Linked DNA regions of Homo sapiens: regions 1, 2, 3 and 5 are each reported to be linked to region 4. Evidence: microRNA targets listed by miRTarBase, many of them from high-throughput screens and not tested one by one. Region 4 holds a microRNA gene; each other region holds the end of a gene's coding sequence.

What was found. The annotated mature microRNA hsa-miR-4327 reads GGCUUGCAUGGGGGACUGG and lies in region 4 at 3,169-3,187, opposite strand. An mRNA with a match to its seed (bases 2 to 7 or 8) in the 3' UTR can be bound and repressed. Matches are read on the target gene's strand: a 7mer-m8 pairs with bases 2 to 8, a 7mer-A1 pairs with bases 2 to 7 and ends in A, and an 8mer does both.
Region 1: miRTarBase lists ZNF280C as a target of hsa-miR-4327. Seed matches in the 3' UTR shown: 7mer-m8 at 2,011-2,017.
Region 2: miRTarBase lists PPIL4 as a target of hsa-miR-4327. The part of its 3' UTR that is shown has no 7-base or 8-base seed match.
Region 3: miRTarBase lists DENND6B as a target of hsa-miR-4327. Seed matches in the 3' UTR shown: 7mer-m8 at 2,292-2,298.
Region 5: miRTarBase lists ZC3H8 as a target of hsa-miR-4327. The part of its 3' UTR that is shown has no 7-base or 8-base seed match.

What each region holds. Positions count from the first base shown.
Region 1 is chrX:130,201,159-130,205,614 of GRCh38, reverse strand. It overlaps ZNF280C (zinc finger protein 280C), which reads left to right. Exons shown (of 19, transcript NM_017666.5): 17 at 200-318; 18 at 462-498; 19 at 623-2,908. The coding sequence ends at 638. Among named protein-coding and RNA genes, the nearest start is that of RAB33A, 31 kb to the right of the region's middle.
Region 2 is chr6:149,501,489-149,505,944 of GRCh38, forward strand. PPIL4 (peptidylprolyl isomerase like 4) reads right to left here. Exons shown (of 13, transcript NM_139126.4): 13 at 3,007-4,216. The coding sequence ends at 3,965. Among named protein-coding and RNA genes, the nearest start is that of ZC3H12D, 19 kb to the left of the region's middle.
Region 3 is chr22:50,308,721-50,313,176 of GRCh38, reverse strand. DENND6B (DENN domain containing 6B) reads left to right here. Exons shown (of 20, transcript NM_001001794.4): 17 at 69-178; 18 at 552-654; 19 at 760-834; 20 at 916-4,147. The coding sequence ends at 1,038. Among named protein-coding and RNA genes, the nearest start is that of PLXNB2, 3.3 kb to the right of the region's middle.
Region 4 is chr21:30,372,182-30,376,637 of GRCh38, forward strand. It overlaps MIR4327 (microRNA 4327), which reads right to left and starts at 3,197; the gene lies at 3,113-3,197. It overlaps KRTAP13-2 (keratin associated protein 13-2), which reads right to left and starts at 90. Exons shown (of 1, transcript NM_181621.4): 1 at 1-90. The coding sequence starts at 32.
Region 5 is chr2:112,227,213-112,231,212 of GRCh38, forward strand. It overlaps ZC3H8 (zinc finger CCCH-type containing 8), which reads right to left. Exons shown (of 9, transcript NM_032494.3): 8 at 3,691-3,738. The coding sequence ends at 3,706. It also overlaps a transcript of FBLN7 not described here. Among named protein-coding and RNA genes, the nearest start is that of ZC3H8, 26 kb to the right of the region's middle.

The sequences.
Region 1 (4,456 bases), not on the chromosome of region 4:
GAGCCACCGTGCCTGGCCAGCGATGCCATTTTCTAGAGAACTATTTTAAATATATCAAGTTTATATAACAAAATTGGAAAATGACGGTTGTGGAGACTAAAATGCAAATCAAGTTAGTACATGGAAAAGTAATTATTGAGCTCATATGGATTTTCATAAATGATAAGAATATTTCTTACTGTCTTCTTTTTTTTCATAGGGGCATTACTCTAGTGTGCCTTAAATGTGATTTCCTAGCTGATTCTTCCGGCTTAGATCGTATGGCTAAACACTTAAGTCAACGTAAAACTCATACTTGCCAAGTTATAATAGAGAATGGTACGTATATATAATTGTGTTTCTTTGATTTTCTGATATTTATTTCAGTACTTTTGATCGGACACCATATGGACCCATGTATTAAATTGATAGTCTCACTCTTCATATATGCTATTGTAAATGTAAAACTCTTTTGATTTCAGTTTCCAAAAGTACCTCAACTTCTGAACCCACTACTGGGTAAGTTTAATTTTCCTTCAGTGCATTTTGCTTTGATGGACTTTAGCACTGTTGTATTTTTTAATGAATCATTAATATTAATATAAATGAAAAATATTAAAGTTTTTTTTTTTTTTTCTTAAAGCTGCTCATTGAAATAGATTCCTGCTCCATGGAGTTCATGCAACCTGGTGCAAGACAAGTTGGAAGTTCCTAAGTTCAAAGTTCTGAAGTATTTTCTCACACAAAGGGCAGTTAAACAGCCAAGTTTATGACACTAGCTCTCATTATTCAGCTCTTTTCAGCTTTCAGATGCCACTACATTGTTATTCCACCTTATCTTTGCGTCAGGTTAACATATCTTAACATATTTTTTTCTCCAGTTGGCTCTCTCCAAAAATGCCTTTTGTTTTTCTCTGCTATACTTGACTTGCCTTCAGAATATTACATTCCAGATAATATGACTGTTCATCTTTTTCTGTCTGTTTTGTCTGCTTTCTTAATTTCTTATAAGTCTTACATGTTTAGGTCAGATAACCATTTTTTCTTCATTCCTTGTTCATTACTGTTCTATTTTTCATATTTTTCAAATGAAGAAGCAACACATAAGTTTCAAAAAATATCCAGGGTACTCCTGGACAGTGTCCCCTTTTGATGGACACAACTGATACCTGTTCTTTCTTTCCAAGAAATGTGAATTATTTGACTGTGAGACGTCCTCTAGTTTGTGGCCTTCAGAAATCAGATCTTGGGGAGAGTCCCTTCCTACCTGACTGACCTCCCATAAGGCTGATGCTGATTTGGCCAGAGATGACCTCAAGGCCCACCAAATAGAGCACAACTTCCCATTGGGAGCTTTGGCTTTTGATCTTAAGCTTATGGGTCGATTCTAACCAAGAAAAGTCCATGAGATCAGTGCTTCAACATCCAGGTTGACGTTTAACCATTTTGGCTGCTGCTCTTTAATTTTCCTCTAGCAGGCATGCAGTCCAAGGAATATCAAAATTCTGATTGTATGGGAACCAAGGTTACTTTCTTGTTCTTGGATAAAGAAAATTTCTACAATTACAGTTCCCAAAGACACAGTTGTTCATGTTATTTAAAGTTTTATCCAGTATTCTAGGAATTTTCAGCAATACTAATATTCTCATTTTTAAACATTTTTTACATTTTATTTTGTTTTATTTTGGTAGCTTGGTTTTATATTGTTTTTAGATCAGTGCTTCAACATCCAGGCTGACGTTTAGCCATTTTGGCTGCTGTTCTTTAATCTTCCTCTAGCAGGCATGCAGTCCAAGGAATATCAAAATTCTGGTTGTATTGGGAACCAAGGTTACTTTCTTGTTTTTGGAAAAACAAAATTTCTACAATTACAGTTCCCAAAGTCAGTTATTCATGTTTTCATTTAAAGTTTTATCCAATATTCTAGGAATTTTCAGCAATACTGATATTCACTTTATTTTTTTTCTTTTTTTAAGACAGAGTCTTGCTCTGTCACCCAGGCTGGAGTGCAGTGGCGCGATCTTGGCTCACTGCAAGCTCCGCCTCCTGGGTTCACGCCATTCTCCTGCCTCAGTCTCCCAAGTACCTGGGATGACAGGCGCCTGCCACCACGCCCGGCTAATTTTTAATTTTTTGTATTTTTAGTAGAGACAGGGTTTCACCATGTTAGCCAGGATGGTCTCGATCTCCTGACGTCGTGATCAGTCCGCCTCGTCCTCCCAAAGTGCTGGGATTACAGGTGTGAGCCACTGCACCCGACCGATACTCACATTTTTAAACTTTTTTTTTAATTTTATTTTGGTAGCTAGGTTTTATATTGTTCTTAAATTTATTTTACTCTATTTTATTTTTCCATCACTTCTTTGTCCCAGATTCATGAAATTTGCTGATGTCCATTTTATGTCTACTTTTGAACTCTTCTCTTTGTGTTTGTTTTGTTCTTATTACAAACTCCAAGACATTTCTTAGAATTGTCTACAGATTTCGTGTAGCTACTTATTGGTAGCTTCTTAATTTCATACTTGTCCAGACCATTAGACATTATTACATGCTCTGTCTTGGGCCTATCATTAACATTAGCTTAGGGATTCTGATTTCAAAGACATAAAGAATTGGCAAAACTCTTCTTACAGAACTTAAAACAAGTTTTAAAGTTACATTTCTATACATCTAATACATAATACCTTCTTAGCCATTAATGTAATTCCTCTGGATAAAGATAATATATTCAAAAAATATTGGGACCAAAAAATGCACTTGTTTCTTGCTCATATATATATAGATGTATATTTTTTTTAATTTCTTGTTTGTTTATTTTGGTTACATTGAATACAGATTTGCTGAACAGTTTTGATGTTATTTTTTTAATAAAATTTGTATTGTTAAAGTGCCTTGGAAATTTCTAATAAATAACTTCATATAAAAGCTATCATATAACTATAGGAGCATTGCTTTGCTCCTAGTTCCGTGGAGCCTGATTGCTTGACCTGCAGACTGAAAGCTTTATCTGCTGAGCACATCTTGTACTTTTTCCTCCAGCACAGTTAAAAGCAAACTATTTACACTTTACTAATTTCTTGAGCAGCTAGCAAAAGCCCCCTTTGTGATCTTAATAGTCATGAAGGTGGGCAGGCTCTGAAGTCATTTGACTCAATATGGGTGTTTTTTAACTCCAAAATTAGAACTGGACCAGGTACAATGTCTCATGCCAGTAATCCCCAATACTTTGAGAGGCTGAGGTGGGAGCCAGGAGTTTAAGACCAGCCTGGGCAACATAGCAACACTCTGTCCCTACCACAAAAAAAAAAAAAAAAAAAAGCTGGGTGTGGTGGCATATGCCTGTAGTCCTAGCTACTCAGGAGGCTGAGGCAGGAGGATCGCTTGAGCCCAGAAGTTCGAGGCTGCAGTGAACTATGATCATGCCACTGCATTCCAGCCTAAGCCACAAAGCAAGACCCTGCTTTAAAAAAAAAAAGAAAATTAAAACTGCTTTGATATACTTTGAAACACTGAAAGCCAGTGTCATTGGCCACTGCTATGTAGTATACTCCTTGCAATTCATAGTCAGGAGTTGAATCCATTAATTTTAATTTTCCAAACAGATTTCTGCTCTAAATGATTTTCCCAAATCTCCAAAAGGGGCTTATGTCATAGTCGTGGACTTGGTAATCCTTTTCTTTCCATACCTTTCTCTAGGATGTTTTGTCAAACACCATTTTTCTACCCATTTTTTTTTTACTTTTTTTATTATGGTAAAATGTATGAAATTTGCCATTTAAAATCATTTTCATTCAGCAGCATTAATGACACCCAACTTTAAGTTTTAAACTTTTTCCCAGAAATAACAACTTATTTGCATTTTTAGCATTGGTCTTCTTTTTATTTACAGATATTTTCTCTGTCTCTATCACAGTTCAAAAATACAGAAAACCACATTCTTGCTATAGCAGTATTTTAGGTAGAGGTACAGTTTTGTGTTCTTCCATAGGATTCTGTTTCTTATACTATGTATCAAGTTATTTTAAAGTTTAATGCTCTGGAAGTTATGTGTCCCATAGCATCACTTTTTTTAAACTTTGTTTAAATAAAACTATTTATGCAGTCAGTACTAAGCTTACTTGTTATAAGCAGTTGAGTTTTAATAGGTGTTAGTGAGTTTTAGCTTGACAATCTGATCCCTCTTCACCTTCAGACTGTTAGTTATTTCACCTGATTCAGAAATAGCCATGTCATGCATGTGTCCTTTTTTGTTTTCAACTGAATAAAAGGTATGGTTGGCTCAGTTTCAGTCCATCACTATTATTATTTTTTAAAAAAACACTAAATGACAAAGACTTAGATTCTTGCCCTTCTTTGTGTCACATTTTGGCAAAACACCTCTTTCAGTCTTTTTTCTTTTTTTTTTTTTTTTGAGACGGAGTCTCGCTCTGTCGCCTAGGCTGGAGTGCAATGGGGCGATCTCAGCTCACTGCAAGCT
Region 2 (4,456 bases), not on the chromosome of region 4:
TTCAAAATTGAAAGTTTAACCACAGCAAAAAAGCAATCAGAAAGAAAAGTCACATTATATCCAAAAGAATGACATTTGGAATGACAAAAGATTTCTCCCCAGTAGTAACAAAAGTAAAAAGATAGTAGACTAATTCTTCAAAGTACTGGGGGAAAAAAAGACACACCTCAACTTAGAATTATGTACATATAAAATCAACTTTATAGAATGAATTGAAAATACTTTTGATAAATGTAAACTAAGAGTTTGCCATCAACAGATGTCACTAGAGGAACATCAAAAGATGTGCTTCAGAAAGAAGGAAAATTATCCTAGGTGAAAGGTCTGAGATGTGAGAATAATAATGAATAAACAAACACTTCTAACATATAAAGTAAATCTAAACCAACAATTATCTGTACAAAAACAGTAATAATCACAAGGTCTAATTTTTTTTCTAACAGATGGTGTCTCACTATGTTGCCCAGGCTGGAGTACAGAGGCTAGTCACAGGCACAATCGCAGTGCACTGCAGCCTCTAACTCCTGGCCTCAAGGGATCCTCCGGCCTCAGCCATTCAGGAGCCAGAACTACAGGTGTGCACCACTGAGTCCAGCTCAAGGTCTAATTTTAAGGTGAAAAATCACAAGCTATAACTAAAATACTGAATGATTTTAACACGAAAGTTGCAAGAGGGGTGACTTGGAGAGTTCCAAGACTCTCAATTAGAGAGGAAGATAAAGATATAACATTATACTTTTTAAGTACGGATGTAATATTCCAAGGAAATTCCCCCAAAACAAAGAAGAGGGGGCAGAGGGGTGAGGGTGGAATTAAAAAACATTTTTGATTCCAAAAGAAAAAAAAAGAGTGGAAGAAAAAAACATAAAAAGCACAAAATAAGGTGGTAAGGAATAAATGCAAATACATCAGTACACATAAAAATGCACTCAACTAACCAGTTAAAGTTCAGATTAGATTTAAAAATAATTGGCCGGGTGCAGTGGCTCATACCTGTAACCCCAGCACTTTGGGAGGCTGAGGTGGGCAGATCAGAAGGTCAGGAGTTCCAGACCAGCCTGGCCAATATGGTGAAAACCCTGTTACTAAAAAAAAGAAAAAAAAATTAGCCAGGCCTGGTGGCAAGCACCTGTAGTCCCAGCTACTCAGGAGGCTGAGGCAGTAGAATCGCTTGAACCCAGGAGGTGGAGGTTGCAGTAAGCTGAGATTGCGCCACTGCACTCCAGCCTGGGTGACAGAGTGAGACTCCGTCTCAAAATAGTAATAATAATCATCATCATCATCATCTAGCTATATGCTGTTTATGAGACACACTAAAACATAAGGACATTCATCAACAAAGCAGGATAGAAAAATCTAGCTAAACTATGCGCAATGCTATCAAAAAATAAAAACGTCAATGAAAACAAATTCCCAGAAAAATGTAATAAAAATGACTAACATTAAAGAAATAGAAAGGCTAATAATTCTATAATTTTTGAAACCTAATCAATAGTTAAGAAATTTTCTCACAAAAAAATGCAAAGTTCAGACAATTTTATAGGCAAGCTCTATCCAGCTTTTAAGGAACAGATTAATTTAAATGTTTTTCTTTTCTTCCAAGAGAACAGACAGAGGGAAGGAGAGAGAGACAGCACTCCTTAACTTATTCTTAGTATCCACAATCTATTAAGTATAAAAAGACAACAATCTACTACTATATAAATGGGCAAAAGACATGAAACAAGCTTTTCAGAGAGCAATAAGGAATGAATAATAAACATGGGAAAAGATGCTCAGCCTCATTAACATTTAGGAAATACAAAGTTAACTTCCACTCTAGTCAAAATGGAGTAGCAGAGGCACGATTTACCTTCTCCACCTTAAATTAAAACCTATATAAAATGTATACAAGGAAGTTTTTCAGATGTTAGACAAAAGCCAGTGCAGGACAGTGACTCCTGAGAGATGGAAAACAAAGAAAGCCCTATAATTGCGCAAGCTTCTACATGGGGTTTCTAAGCTGTGGCACTAAGGCTAGGGAAGGGAACCTCCCTGGGTAGAGAATTTAGGGGAGCCAAGGTAAGATTTGCAGGGCAGAATATTGGGTTTCCCTTAAGTCTTCAGCTAAACACCAAGCAGTGTATGCATGTGAGGTAAGGAACAGGAGATACAACTGGGAGCTCAATAGGGTTCAGAATATTTCATGTTCCCAACAGACAGAATGCAGAAACCGTGTAACCAGGAAGATTATTCAGAACGGTATTACCTTCGTAGTGGGTCAAATTAGCCCTAAACTAAAGGCTGTCCCAGTCCTGTCTTATTAAGCTTAAAAGCAAGCTATAAAATGATCGGATTGTTTCCAAGTAACTTTATGTCCCCAAACAGAGTTCAAGATACTTAAAAGAACTCCAGCACCCAATATTAAAAACAGAAATTACCAGGCATGTAATGAAGGAAGTTACAATCCAATATGGGCAGGGTGGGGGTTGGGGTAGGGTGGGAATCAATCAATAGAAACAGACCAGAAATGATGCAGATGACAGAATGGGCAAGCACACTGAAAGAGCTATTATCAATACACTCCAGATGTTGAAAAAAAAAAAAATAGAGGAAGGCATGAGCATGTGAAGGAGACACATGGGAGATAAAGACCCAGACAGAAATTCTAAAGACTAAAAATATGTCGGAGGTGAAAAATACCTGGATACGATTAAAAGGAAATTAGATACTTTAGACAGAAAGATTAATAAACAATGAGGACACAGCACTGGAAAGTACCCAACATGAAACACAGAGAGAAAAAGGCTTTTTAAAAAGCTGCACAGAATCAGCACACTGGGAGAAAATTCTGAGGGGCCTAACGTACATCCAAGTCATCAGAGCCCCAGGAGAAGCATGAGAGGAGCAGAGAGAAAACCATAACAGAAGAAAAAATGCCCCCCAATTTCCAAATTCTATGAAAACCATAAACCCACAGGTAAAATAGCTGCAGCAGCAGAAACGTGAAAAAAAAACTACAGCAAGCACATCATAATCAAACTTCTTACAACCAGTGACAGAAAACCTTAAAAGCAGCCAGGAAAAAAATGACATCTTACACATGGAAGAGCAGAGATAACAGTAATCTTGCTGGAAATCACAGGTAGATACCACTTAACATCCACTAGGTTGGCAAATTTTTAAGTCTGAACTTAAGTGTTGGAGATGCTATGAAACAAAGGTAACTCACAGTGCCAAGAGAGGTATAAACTAGTACAGTCACTTCAGAACACAAATTTGGCATTATTTTATCAATATATCAAGCAATATAACTGCTAGATACAATGTTCACAGCAGCATTGTTTCAACAGCAAAAACAAATAAACAAAACTCAAATGTCCATCAAGAATGAATAAGTTGTAGTATATTTATATAATACTATATAGCAATAAAAATGAAAGAAAGTCACAGAAGTAAACATTTTGCCATTTATATAAAATTCAGAAACATACAAAATTAACATTTCACTTACAGATACATACGTATGTTGTAAAACTATAATAGACAAATGACAAACACAAAATTCCAAATAATTATTTGAGAGGGAGAGGGCCTTAGGGAACTTCTAAAATGTCGACAACATCTGTATCTTAAGCTGGCTGATGAGTACACAGATATTTACATTTATTATCCCTTTATATATACGTTTATGTATTTTTGTAGTATGAAATACTTCATTAAAAAAAGAGTGAAAATGTAAGACTTCAAAAATGAAGACTACCATTTATGTATAACAATAAAATTAGTGTAAAAAAGTATACAAAGAAAATGTTCAATTCTTTATCTTTCCGTGCTCTATATAATCAGTATTAATCTAAAGACCATAATCCTAGTATGAAAAAAATAACAAGCTTTGACACAAAATCTAAGCATCTGCTTTCCTGGCACTCTTAAGTTAGACAAGAGTAAATATGTTAGCCTCTCAATTCTGCCTCTTCATCTTTCATCTATACTTAGATTTTTCTTTATCTTTGGACTTCTTTGGACTTCTGCTTCGGTCTCTCTTTTTACTCCTTTCTCTTTCATAAAGATCTGTTTGGTATTTTGATTTATGACTATTACTATAATGGCCATCCCTCTCTCGAGATCGGCTACGACTTCGGTTCTGAGTTCGGTCTCTCTTTTCACTCTTTTGTTTCTCCCAACAGCTTTCTTCTTCTTCATAGTGACCAAACCCCATTTCTCTATAGATATCCTGTCAAAGGAAGGGGGAATTACAAGTGAATCAGTAAAATAATCATTTTGTGGGCATTTTCAATTAATAAAACTTAGAAAAGTCTACCATTAGAAGGCTGTTATAACAGCTTAAATGTGAACACTACCACTAATGTCAAGAATCTTGTAAATTACAAAGCAATAAAATAATTCAGAAAAAGGTTTAACAACGTCATTGATTTGTATCTACTATTTTGGCTGAAACGAAGGATCAGCTTCA
Region 3 (4,456 bases), not on the chromosome of region 4:
GGGAAGCGTACCGGGTGCAGGCCTGTGAGGCCGAGTTCCCACGTGCTGGCTCACCCATCCCCTCTCAGACTCCCCCCCAGATCCAGCCCTTCAGCCAGGATGACTTCCTGCGTAGCCTGGAGCATGCTGGGCCCCAGCTCACCTGCATCCTCAAGGGCGACTGGCTGGGTCTCTACAGGTGCGTGGACTGCAGGTGCAGGCAGCTTGAGCCCTCCTTGGTCCACAGGGTCAGCCCCATGGCCCCCCGCCTGTCAATCCCCAGGGTCATCCCCATGGCCCCCCGCCTGTCAATCCCCAGGGTCAGCCCCATGGCCCCCCGCCTGTCAATCCCCAGGGTCAGCCCCATGGCCCCCCGCCTGTCAATCCCCAGGGTCAGCCCCATGGCCCCCCGCCTGTCAATCCCCAGGGTCAGCCCCATGGCCCCCCGCCTGTCAATCCCCAGGGTCAGCCCCATGGCCCCCCGCCTGTCAATCCCCAGGGTCAGCCCCATGGCCCCCGCCTGTCAATCCCCAGGGTCAGCCCCATGGCCCCCCGCCTGTTAATCCCCACAGGCGGTTTTTCAAGTCCCCCCATTTTGATGGCTGGTACCGGCAGCGGCACAAGGAGATGGCCCTGAAGCTGGAGGCCCTGCACCTGGAGGCTATCTGTGAGGCGGTGAGAGAGGCTGGGGGTTGGGGAGGGCCAGAACATGGTGGGGGTGGGCACAGGCCCAGGGCAGTGAGGGGCCTTGCTGACAGTAGACCCCGTCTTGCCCTGCAGAACATCGAGACCTGGATGAAAGACAAGTCCGAGGTGGAGGTCGTGGACCTGGTCCTGAAACTTCGTGAGAAGCTGGTAAGATGCCTCCCAGCCTTGTCCCAGCGCCACCAGCCTGGCACGGAGCTGCGCCTGCCCTGACCATGGCTGCCCCTCCAGGTGCGGGCTCAGGGCCACCAGCTCCCTGTGAAGGAGGCTACGCTGCAGCGGGCACAGCTGTACATCGAGACGGTCATCGGCTCCCTGCCCAAAGACCTGCAGGCTGTCTTGTGCCCTCCCTAGAACAAAGCCAAGGGCCACGGTCCCAGGGCCCTAGGTCTGCCTGAGCCTCCCACTCCCCAGTGGTGGCGGCACTGGGCCAAGCACACGCTCCCCTTCCTTGGCCCCCCGCCCAGACTGCAGGCTCCCCTTCCTGCACCACCATTGTCTCAGCAGTAAAGGCGACATTTGGAACCACAGCATGGCCTTGACCATAGGGGTTCCTCGCAGGCAGAGCCTTGCCTCCTCCTGGGTCCCACCTGGCCTCTGCAGACCTTAGGCTGGGACGGGGGCGGGGACAGGCTGGGAGCCCTTGCTGATGTGGGTGCGTCTACCGTCTGCCCCTCCCGGTGCCCATCTGTTGGCCCCCGACCCCCCTGCGCTGTGTGTGATGCTTCCCTCAGCCCAACAGGCTGCCCAGGACAGGAGGGACCCTCTCCTGACACAGCCCCCGTCTTGTCTGGGGATGGGAGGCTATTTTGCATATAGTCATCAACTTGAGAAAGGGAGAGACCACTTTGCAGTGTGAAGAGCTCTGCTCACCACCCCTGGTGCTCCTCTGGACACCCACCTGCTTGGGGCTGTGGTTTGTTGGGAGGTAGGGGTTGGGCAGGGGGCTGTGTGCAGCCCAGCACCTCTGCTAGGAGAGCTGGCTCAGCCTGGCTCTCGGAGAGCCACAGCACCTTCCTGGCTCCCAGTCCTGGAGCCCCCACCAGGCACCAGCTCCGTGCGTCCCTTCTGGGAGGTGGACAGGGCTCCTGTTGTCCAAGTGTGTCCGTCCATCCCCCACATGCAGCCCAAGGGGCTCTGGACTTCGGCCTGACCCTGCCTCTGGCTGGAGCCTGCATGTCTCCCTTTCCTTGGTAAGGGGTGAACGTCCCTAAGAGCCACCTCTGGGTTGTATGCTCCCCCCGTGACACCTGCAGGCACTGAGGCCGGTGAGGTACGGTGTTGACCCTGCACAGCACACAGTGACGGTACTGTCAGGGCTCCGGACAGCCAAGCCCTGCTCAGCATCACGCACTGTGTGCCCGGGAGCAGGTCCCCTGACCACTCAGACCCTCAGACTCCTCATCTGAGCGAGCCAGCCATGCAGATGCCCGACAGGGTGCTGGGAGGGCCACTCATGGAGACTGGGCTTTGTACCCTGTGAGGCCGGGCGGGTGCTGGCCAGGGGACACAGGGCTGGGGGAGGGACTTTTTCTTTTTTTTTCTTTTTGAAATGGAGTCTCGCTCTGTTGCCCAGGCTGGAGTGCAGTGGCATGATCTCGGCTCACTGCAAGCTCTGCCTCCCGGGTTCACGCCATTCTCCTGCCTCAGCCTCCCGAGTAGCTGGGACTACAGGCACCCACCACTGCGCTTGGTTAATTTTTTGTATTTGTAGTAGAGACAGGGTTTCACCATGTTAGCCAGGATGGTCTCGATCTCCTGACCTCGTAATCCGCCCGCCTCGGCCTCCCAACGTGCTAGGATTACAGGCATGAGCCACCGCGCCCGGCCGGGACTTTTCTTTTTCTTCTGAGGCCCCCATTCAGTCCGAGGAATGTAGCCTTCATTCAGCGCAACGTACTGTTTGTGTTCTCATTGGTGCTCTCAGACCTCCAGCCAGGTGGTGGAGAGCGAGCACTGCCAGCCACTTCAGTGCAGGATGTGACTGAGCCACAAGGACAGCGGGGTCAGGTGTCCGGGCGCCAGGTAGTTCTCAGAACTTGGTACATGTCAACTTGTCCAGCCCAACTGCAGCCCAGGACAGCCTGTCCCTGTTCCCATTCTACAGACAAGACGCGGAGGCAGCCGGGAGGGTGACCAAGGGGAGCTGTTAAGCCCCAGATGTCTGGTGCAGGGTCCAAGGATGTGACCACATGAAACAGAACACATAGAGGCCGAGGTGGCAAACCTGTTCTGTGGCAGGGACAAGCCGGGGACCCGAGGGTGAGAAAGGTCCTGGCCCCAAATGCAGCTTGGGCCTCCTGACTGTAGCACAGGGGGACCAGCCTCCCCACTGAGGGCTTGGTCTCTAGAGGGTCTGCAGAGATGCTGGCACCTCTTGTGTGGGCAGCTTGAATGCTGACCTCCATAAGATGGGGCCTGGGGGGCCAGTACAGGCCCTGCCATCAGCTGCCCTCCACCAGGGCCCTCTGCAAAAGCCTTATGCTGGTGACCAGCCCCCTGAGGACCACCACTTCAAGGTGTCGGGGCAGCTTGGGAAGACAACCCACCTCTCTCACAACTGTGACCCCACTTTGGGGAGCGCACCCCAAGGACCGTGGCAGCATGTGCTTCCCCACAGCACAGTCTCGCCTCACTTGGCTTTCTGAGGGCTGCCGCACAGCACAGAGGGCTGCAGACCCACATGGCTGCAGGGGAGGGGCTTCAGGCTGGTCTCTGAGGAGCCCCCAGGGACCCTGGCCACTGTGTATCCAGAAATGCACAAGCAGATTTCCCTGGAGGGCTCTGGTGAGGCCACATAGTGGCGTGTGAAGGGGGAACTTGAGGGGGGAACCGGGCTGGGTGGCCAGCATTGCCCTGGGCAGAAGCTAAGGCTAAGGTGGGGGGTAGTGTCCCAGCCCCTCTTCCTCAGGGCCTGTCCCCACCTGTGCAGAAGAGGCCTGGGGTGGAATGTGGCCTGGGGTGGATGGGTGGGGGCTGGGCGTGGAGACCTGCCAGCTCCATCTGTCCGGATGCCTCTTGTGGCCCCCCCAGTGTCAGGGCCGCTCTGAGTTGGCTGAGCCTCTGTCCAGGGCTAGGCCATGGCCCTCCCCGCCCCACGCACTCCAGGCCAGGGGCAGTCAGTGAAGAGGCAGGAAGGTCCAGACAGCTCTACCCCTGGCCAGAGTGCCAGCCCCCGCAGGCAAGAGGGCTTGCTGGGCAGAACTTAGTTGGCGAGGGTGAGGACTGCTGTGGTCACAGGCCTCCCGAAGGACAGGGACCACAGAACCTAGAGGGTGGGAAGGGCTGGGAGCAGGTCTGGAGTGGGGCTCGGGGCTGAGGGTGCACACAGGGGGCCTGCTCAGGGACAGGAAGGACAGCTGCTCACCCTCAAGCTTCCTGCTGGCTATTTAAAGACTCCCTTTTAGTCTAGAACAGTGGCCTTCCCACAGTTTTGGTATTAAAATGTCCTTTTGTGACTGGACCTTGTCTTTTCCTTTTTTGATAAAAAGTTGGCAACCTTGTCAGAACCTGGTAATTTTGGGGTCCTCTGCAGTGAAGGGTAGGGTTGCCGTGATGTGGATTGTGGTTCAAGGCCCAAGGGAAGATTTTGGACAGGAACAAGGCCTGGCTGCTTGAGGGTGGGAGAAGGCAGAGACTGAAAGAACTAAGTCAGGCTGGGGGAGTTTGTCAGGATGTGGCGGGGCGGATCCCGGGTGGGGGAAGCAGAGGAGGAGGGGATGCCTGGCTGGGGACAGGAGGAAGCTGACCAGCTGCAAGGACGGGGCAGGTC
Region 4 (4,456 bases):
GAGAAGTTTCCAGAGCAGCAGTTGTAGGACATGTTGACGGGAGATGTGAGTTCAGCTGAGTTATAGTGGAAAGATTCTCTGAGTTTGAATGTCATAGTCTGGACTCCAAGTTATATATGCTCTTAGACCTGGGTGTGTCCACTGTCTCGACACTCCCTTCTCCTTGCTCACTTTTTATTATAAGAATGCTTCCCTAGGTTATTGTTTAATTTATCACATCTTCATATACTTACTTGTACTTTAGTCACTCTGGAACACTTAGAAGGAAGCCACTCAGTTTTTTTTTTTCCTGGAATTCACTGTGGTTTGACCTTCAATGTTATATGTCATCACATTTATGAGTATCTTGCCTCTTATTATTTGAGTACAGTGAGTCCTTATTGTACCAAATGGAATTACACAAAATTCTTTCTTTACTTCCCTTAAGTTATCAGGAGCATCAGTGGTTACTACTCAAAATAGATTGTCCTTCTTTTTAACACAAGCATATTATTTGTTACCAGAAACGGAGGATTTCTCCAAATACTAACTGTATTCAGTAGCCTCAGCAATCTGTCAGTTAAACCTTTTACTAGTACCTTAAGAGCTCAGGATCAGAACTGAGGAGTGCAGCATTATGTTGGGTGTCCATATCAGGCATCTTCCTTAACAAGAGGCTACTTTAGACAATGCTCACTTAGGAAACAATAAACACAAACTTTTTAGTAAGACTTTAAATTGAAGTTTTTCAGATATTTTCTGATGAACCTATCTTGTAGCAAGCACTATTCTATGGTTATGCTCTAAATCAACTCATAAATTTTATTTTGTTTTATGTTTCAATTTTTTTTTCTGGATAAAAGGACAGATTCTTAGCTGCAATTATTAATTTATACTTAAACTTTGAGGAATTGTTAACATTTTTCTGAAGCTTTTAACTTGAAGTATTAGAGTTATATGGGTCTTTAAACATCCCCTGTTCAACCCATACATGGAAAAATTACCTCTCAGAGAGCTTTAACTTTCCCCTAATTTCTCAGTAAGATAGAAGCAAAATTGAAGCTTTAATTATGGTTTTCTTATTCAGAGTCAAGTTGCAAATACCTTGCAAATATAAAAGTAAATTCAACTTTAACTTGTCTCAGAAAAGAAACTATTAAGCTTATTTATACTAAGATATAAAAGCCTAACAAAGCCTTATTTACTTTTCCTAACAATATTCACACTGAATAGTGTTCAACTGGGGAATTCTATGCCTTACTGATCTTCATACATTTGAAGTATATTTCACTTCCTAGCCCAAGAAAGAGAAAGAATATTGGTAATCCATGTTTAGATTAATGGGGGGAAGAGGCTTCTTATCTGTGTCTATTCTTCTTCTTTTGAATTTGACATTTTATTTGGTTTAACTAAGGGAAATGGCATTCACAATGGTTATCGAAAAGAGAGCCTCTTAACTACCTGAAAATTAACTTCCTTCATTCCAAAGCACACTGTTTCAGAGCACTTAGTTACTTTGTTTTATGATTATCTCTCCCATGCAGAATCCAAAGTGTGGCATGCATCACATGAAGTGCCCTTGTGCAATACTTAAACCATCACTCTGATTCACTGAAGTAAAATAAGCTGTGCTTTATGAATGGACACCTATTAAATTCACCAAAAAGTATGCACCACCCCCAACACATGGGATTCCTTATAATGGCAGCTTTTAACACCTTTAAAATGAGAAATATTTTTCTTTTCTTACTACAGGTTGATTCTGCTCAAAAAAAAGAAAACAAAAAACTTACTAATATCCAAAAGTTCTTGCCTTTCTAGACCAGCTCCCTATGTCTGGGAATAAACACTAAAATAACTTGGGAGTAAGTCAGTTCCAATTAACAGTCCCTCCACCCATTCCTAATTGGGTTAACACTTTTTATTAGGAGTTATTTGTGCACTTTGTACAAATGCTAATGAACAACTCCCAAATGCTAATAAATGTGTCCATCTGAAAGGCAGAAAAAGCAGAACAAAACTAGAGTAGCCTTAACAGTTCAAAAGTGGATTCTGGAACTAATAAAATACTCTACGTACTCTACATACACAGGCAAAGTATTAGTATAGAAAGAAAAATTCACTATCTTGATATGTCAGGGAAAACGTGATATTGAAATCTTTTCTCTCTCTCTCCTTCCTTCCTTCCCTCCCTCCCTCTTTCTTTTTCTTTTTCTTTCTTTTCTTTCTCTGCCTCTCTTTCCTTTTCTTTTTCTTTCTTTTCTTTCCCTCCCTCCCTCTCTCTCTGCCTCCTTCCCTCCCTTTCTCCCTCTCTCTCTTTCTCTGTTTCTCTTTCTTTCTATTTCTTTCTTTCTTTTCTCTTTCTTTCTTTCTTCTTTCTCTTTTCTCTTTAGAAATTTAGGCATAACAACACTACAGAGAATAAAACTATCATTACAGTACACAGTAGCCACAAGTAGCCTATGATCTGAATTACTTGAAAAGTGATTGTTTTTCCAAGTTAACATAGTAATGTAGCAGAAGCTTTAAACTGACAATCTTCTATTGCAATGTTTCCAGAGATTCTTCAAAAGCTTTCAAATTAACCAAATATTAGGCAGTAGTAGAAATAGTAAAAATCCATATATACTGCCCTATACCTTTTTTACTTTCTTTTTTTTTTTTTTTTTTCCGAGACGGAGTCTGGCTCTGTCACCCAGGCTGGAGTACAGTGGTGCAATCTTGGCTCACTGCAAGCTCTGCCTCCCGGGTTCACACCATTCTCTTGCCTCAGCCTCCCGAGTAGCTGGGACTACAGGTGCCCGCCACCACGCCTGGCTAATTTTTTGTATTTTTAGTAGAGACGGGGTTTCCCCATGTTAGCCAGGATGGTCTTGATCTCCTGACCTCATGATCCACCCGCCTCGGCCTCCCAAAGTGCTGGGATTACAGGCGTGAGCCACCGCGTCCGGCCACCTTTTTACTTTCTGTTCACTTTTTAATTTTCTGCCTTCTCTAGACCTAGGAGAGGCTTTTATTGTCTGGTCACTAAAGAGTCTTCATAACAGCTGCTTTACACTAGATTTTATTTTTAAAATTCTCACCCAAGGGGAAATGTATCTATTAAACATTAATGCTAACTATGAAGAACCCACTACTGAGTAAAGGCTTGATGAGAACTCCCTGGACTAACCTGTTCATGGTCTCTTCCCAGTCCCCCATGCAAGCCTACCCAGGCCTGTGGCTTTCTCGGAGGTCATCCGGCCTCATTGTTTGAGACTTTTCCAGGCCCTGGCACCTCCTCTAACTTCACTACAGCTCTTCCTGCTTCAAATTCATCCATTTTATGTCTTCATCATCCATGACTTTCGTTTGAAATAAAAAGGCCAGGCTGGGCGCAGTGGCTCACGCCTGTAATCCCAGCACTTTGGGAGGCCGAGGCAGGTGGATCACGAGGTCAGGAGTTTGAGACCAGCCTTTCAAACATGGCGAAATCCCGTCTCTACTAAAAATACAAAAATTAGCCAGGCGTGGTGGCAGACATCTGTAATCCCAGCTACTGGAGAGGCTGAGGCAGGAGAATCGCTTGAAACTGGAAGGCAGAGGTTGCAGTGAGCCAAGGTCATGCCACTGCACTCCAGCCTGGGCGACAGAGTGAGATTCCGTCTCAAACAAACAAACAAACAAAAAGATTTATAAACAGCCTGCTTACACACCTCTCGGTTCTTCTTATCTCTTCTGAGACCTTACCCTTGCATTTACTGAAAACAAATAGAAAATTAAAGTAAATTCTAGAGTCATTTTCTGGATGCCTAAACTCACAATTGTTACCACGTTGTCAGATTTGCGTTCATCTTTCTCTTTTTTATTTTAAATGTTTATGGATACATAATGTTGCGCATATTAATGGGGTACATGTGATATTTTGATACAGGCACACGATGTGTAATGATCAAATCTGGGTAACTGGCATATCCATCACCTTAAACATTTATCATTTTTTTTGTGTTGAGAACATTCCAAATCTACTTTTCTAGTTATTTTGAAATATGCAATACATTATTGTTAACCACAGTTGCTGTACTGTGTTACTGAACACTAGATCTTATTCCTCCTATCTAACTATATTTTTGCACCCATTAACCAACACCTCTCTGTCCTTTCTTTCCACTACCCTTGCAAGCCTATGGTAACCACCATTCTATTCGCTATCTTACAGAGAGAGACCCCTTGTGGGCCAGTCTCTCAGTCTGATTCTTTTTCATATCTTTCCAAAGGCATCACAATAATGCATTCGTTTTTGCATAGCATTCCAGGAAATTGTCTATACATATATTTATCGGTTTATACCATTTATTGTTGTTTTAAGTTACAAAAATGCCATCTTATTGGATACATATATGTATCTGTAGCTTTCTTTTTATATTAAATTTATTTAAATAAAAATATCTAAAACATATCCAAGTTGATATTTATATATTTGTGCATTTATTATCAC
Region 5 (4,000 bases), not on the chromosome of region 4:
AAGCATTAGAAAGGTTAGAAAGGAAGAGGCAGCTGGGCGCGGTGGCTCACGCCTGTAATCCCAGCACTTTGGGAGGCCGAGGCAGGCGGATCGCCTGAGGTCAGGAGTTTGAGACCAGCCTGGCCAACATGGTGAAACCCCATCTCTACTAAAAACACAAAAATTAGCCGGGCGTGGTGGCAGATGCCTGCAATCCCAGGTACTCGGGAGGCTGAGGCAGGAGAATCACCTGAACCCGCAAGGCCGCGGTTGCAGTGAACCGAGATCGCGCCATTTGCACTCCAGCCTGGGGGAGAAGAGCAAGACTTTGTCTCAAAAAACAAAGGAAGACATAACATAATCCTACATATACAAATTCCTAAGGAATACATGCACACACAAAATAAAACCTACTAGAGCTAATAAATGAATTCGAAGTCTTGGGAAACAAGATCAATAACAGAAATAAATTCTATTTCTACATACTACCAATGAACAACTAAAAATAAAGTTTAAATTACAATTCCATTCAATAGCATCAAACAGAATATGTACGAATAAATTAACAAAAAAGTGTACACTGTACACTTGTACAGTGAAAATTACAAAACTGAGAGAAACTGAAGATCTAAATAAATGGAGAGACATTCCATGCTCACAGATCAGAATTCTATGTGCAATTTTCCACAGATGCAATGCAATCCCTATCAAAATCTCAGCATGGGTTTTTTGCAGAATGTACAAGCTGATCTTAAAACTTATATGGAAAAGCAAAAGATCCAGAGTAGCCAAAACAATCTTTGAAAAGTAGAACAAAGCTAGACAGCTTACGCTTCCTTATTTCAAAACTTAGAACAAAGCTATAGTAATCAAGACACTGTGATAGTGTATAAGGACACACATATAGAGGTCAATGGAACACAACTAAGTACAGAAATAAATCCATACATTTATAGTCAGCTGATTTTTGACAAAGGCATGAAGGCAAGTCAGGGGGAAGGGGCAGTCTTTTTTTAAAATGGTGCTGGTGGCCAGGCACAGTGGCTCACCTTTGTAATCCCAGAATTTGGGAGGCCAAGGTGGGCAGATCACCTGAGGTCAGGAGTTCAAGACCAACCTGGCCAACATAGTGAAAGCCTGTCTCTACTAAAAATAACAAAAATTAGGAGGCATGGTGGTACACACCTACAGTTCCAGCTACTCGGGATGCTGAGGCATGAGAATCACTTGAACCTGGGAGGCAGAGGTTGCAGTGAGCCGAGACTGCACCACTGCACTCCAGTCTGGCAACAGAGTGAGACTCTGTCTCAAAAAAAAAAAAAAAAGTGCTGGGACAATTGGACATCTACATGTAAAAAAAAGTTTTGCCCTTAACTCACACAATTCCTAAAAATTAACTCAAAATGAATCATAGACATAAACACAAGAGCTAAAACTAGAAAATTTTTAGAAGAAAACATAAGAGCACATCTTGTGACTTTGTGTTAGGCAATAAATTCTTAGATACAACACGGAAAGCATGATCCATAGAAGAGAAAACTGATAAACTGTACGACATCAAAATGAAAACTTTGATGCTTCAAAAGATACCATTAATAAAATAAGACAAGCCACAGATTGGGATATTTGCAAATCATGTATCTAATAAAGGATCTGTATCCAACATACGTAAAGAACTCCTAAAACTCAATAAGAAAACAATCTAATTTTAAAATGGGCAGAGATCTAAACTGACTAATGGCCAATAAGCACATGAAAAGATGTTCATAGTCATTTGAGAAATGAAAATTACAACTACAGTGAGATACAGCATCACTCCTACTGGAAAAGCTATAATCAAAATGACTGACAGTAACAAGTGTTGCTACGGTAATTAAGATAGTATATACTGGAGAAAAAGACAAATGGAGAAGAACTGACATCCCAGAAACAGACCTTCAGATCTTCACTTGATGGAAACTTGACATATACCAAAAGGGGTATTACAGGTTAGTGGGGGAAAGAGCAGTCTTTTTAATTAAATAATGCTTGGGAGATTGGTTATCCATGTGGGAAAAAGGGAACAACAACAACAAAAATAAGAATGATATGAGGCCTCTATCTGATACCATTTTAAAAAAGTCTATTAGTATTATTTTTTCTTTTCTCCCTAGAGTTACAGTTATACTCTTTTTTCATTCATTCTACCAGTTCCTCCCACATGTAAAGTACAAAAGGTGGAGTACAGTTTCCTTCTCCTTGACTTTGGGCTTGGCCATATGACTTACTTTAGCCAATGGGTTATAAGTAAATGTGCTGTAAACAGGGCTTTGCCCTCTTGAGTTTCTGCCAACACCATGAGAAGAACATGCCCTAGCTAGCCCACTGGTCCCAGGAGAGTTAGATAAGTATGGGCAGAACTGACCCAGCAGATCTGCCATATGAAACAGTGCCAACCCAACCAAGGCCAGATGAGATCAGCCAACTCCCAGCCAATCTATATATGCATAAAAAATAAGCACTTTGTGTTATTCACTACTGAGAACCTTGTAGTTGTTTTTGCTAAGCACCATTACTGTACCAACTGTTAATACAATTCCCAATGGATTAAAATATAAACGTATACAGCAAAGCTCCAAAACTTAAAAAAAAAGTTAAATTACTTTACAGCCTCATGACAGGGAATAATTTCTTAAATGAGACACAAAACACAAAAGTAGGCATAAACAAAAAGATTCCCAAAATAAGTAATTCTACTCACTGAGATGCCGCAAAAAAAAAAAACAAAAAACGAAAAGACCGTCCACAAAATGGGAGAAGGCCTGCCACACATACCTCACAAAGAATTATATAAGGAATATATAGAAATCAATGTATAAAGGACAATCAGACCAATAAAAACATGGGCAAAGACATTAACAGGCATTTCACCAAAGATGAAACTCAAAAACCAGTAAGCATAAGAAAAGATGCTGCACTTCATGCAAATTAAGTTACGAGATTCTATTTTTACATCCACTAAATTGGTTGAAATTAAAGTATTGACAATATAAAGTACTGGCAAGTGTAGAATGACAGTTCTTCTACACAGTTTGTAGGAGTATAAACTGGTATAACTACTTGAGAAAAAAACTGATATTATATTAAATTTTATGATGATATGATTCTACTCCTTGGCACATACTGTGGATAACTTGTGCACATTCATGCCAAGAAGTATGTATATGGATATTTACAAGAGTTAGTATTTTTAAAAATTGAAAATAACCTAAATATTCATTAATAGTAGAATGACCAAATAACTAATATAAACATAAAGTGAAATGTTATATAGGAGTAAAAATGAATGACAGCTGCATGCATCTACACGAATGAATAATGTTGGGTGAAAATAGCCACGTCATCAATTAATACAGAGAGTATGATACAGTCTGATAAAATCCAAACATAAGCAAAACTAAATATATTGTTTTGTGAATTATACGTATTTGGTAAATCTACAAAGAAACACAAGAGGAGAATAAAAATATACCTGATAGACAAGCCCACACAAGGAAGCAGGCTGATGTAGATCCATATAGGTATGTAAATATATCAAATATTTTATAATTCTTTTTTAGTGGCGGAGGAAGAAGAAAAATACTTCTATTTGAGAACCCTATTGAGGTTGCATGCCAACTTCTGGAGATGTTCAGACAAGAAAAAAAGAAATGTGGTAAATTCTAATTTTACCTTTTTATGTCTATTTTATTTACATGACTTCTTTTCAGTATCCAAAACCTAATATAAAAAAAAAATCACATAATCATTTTTATGCATTCATGTGTAATTCAGGTATACTGTCATATTCATAACTTTCAAATGATTCCAATCAAATTCATCCTAATAATCATCTAATATTATTTACTACTACTACAGGAACTGAAAAACTTATTTCATATATATCACTTTTCCATATCTATTTCACACAAATAAACAACTAAATATTTGGTACAACTTCTAATTCCACATTAACCATTCATATTTTACAACCTAAAAATAT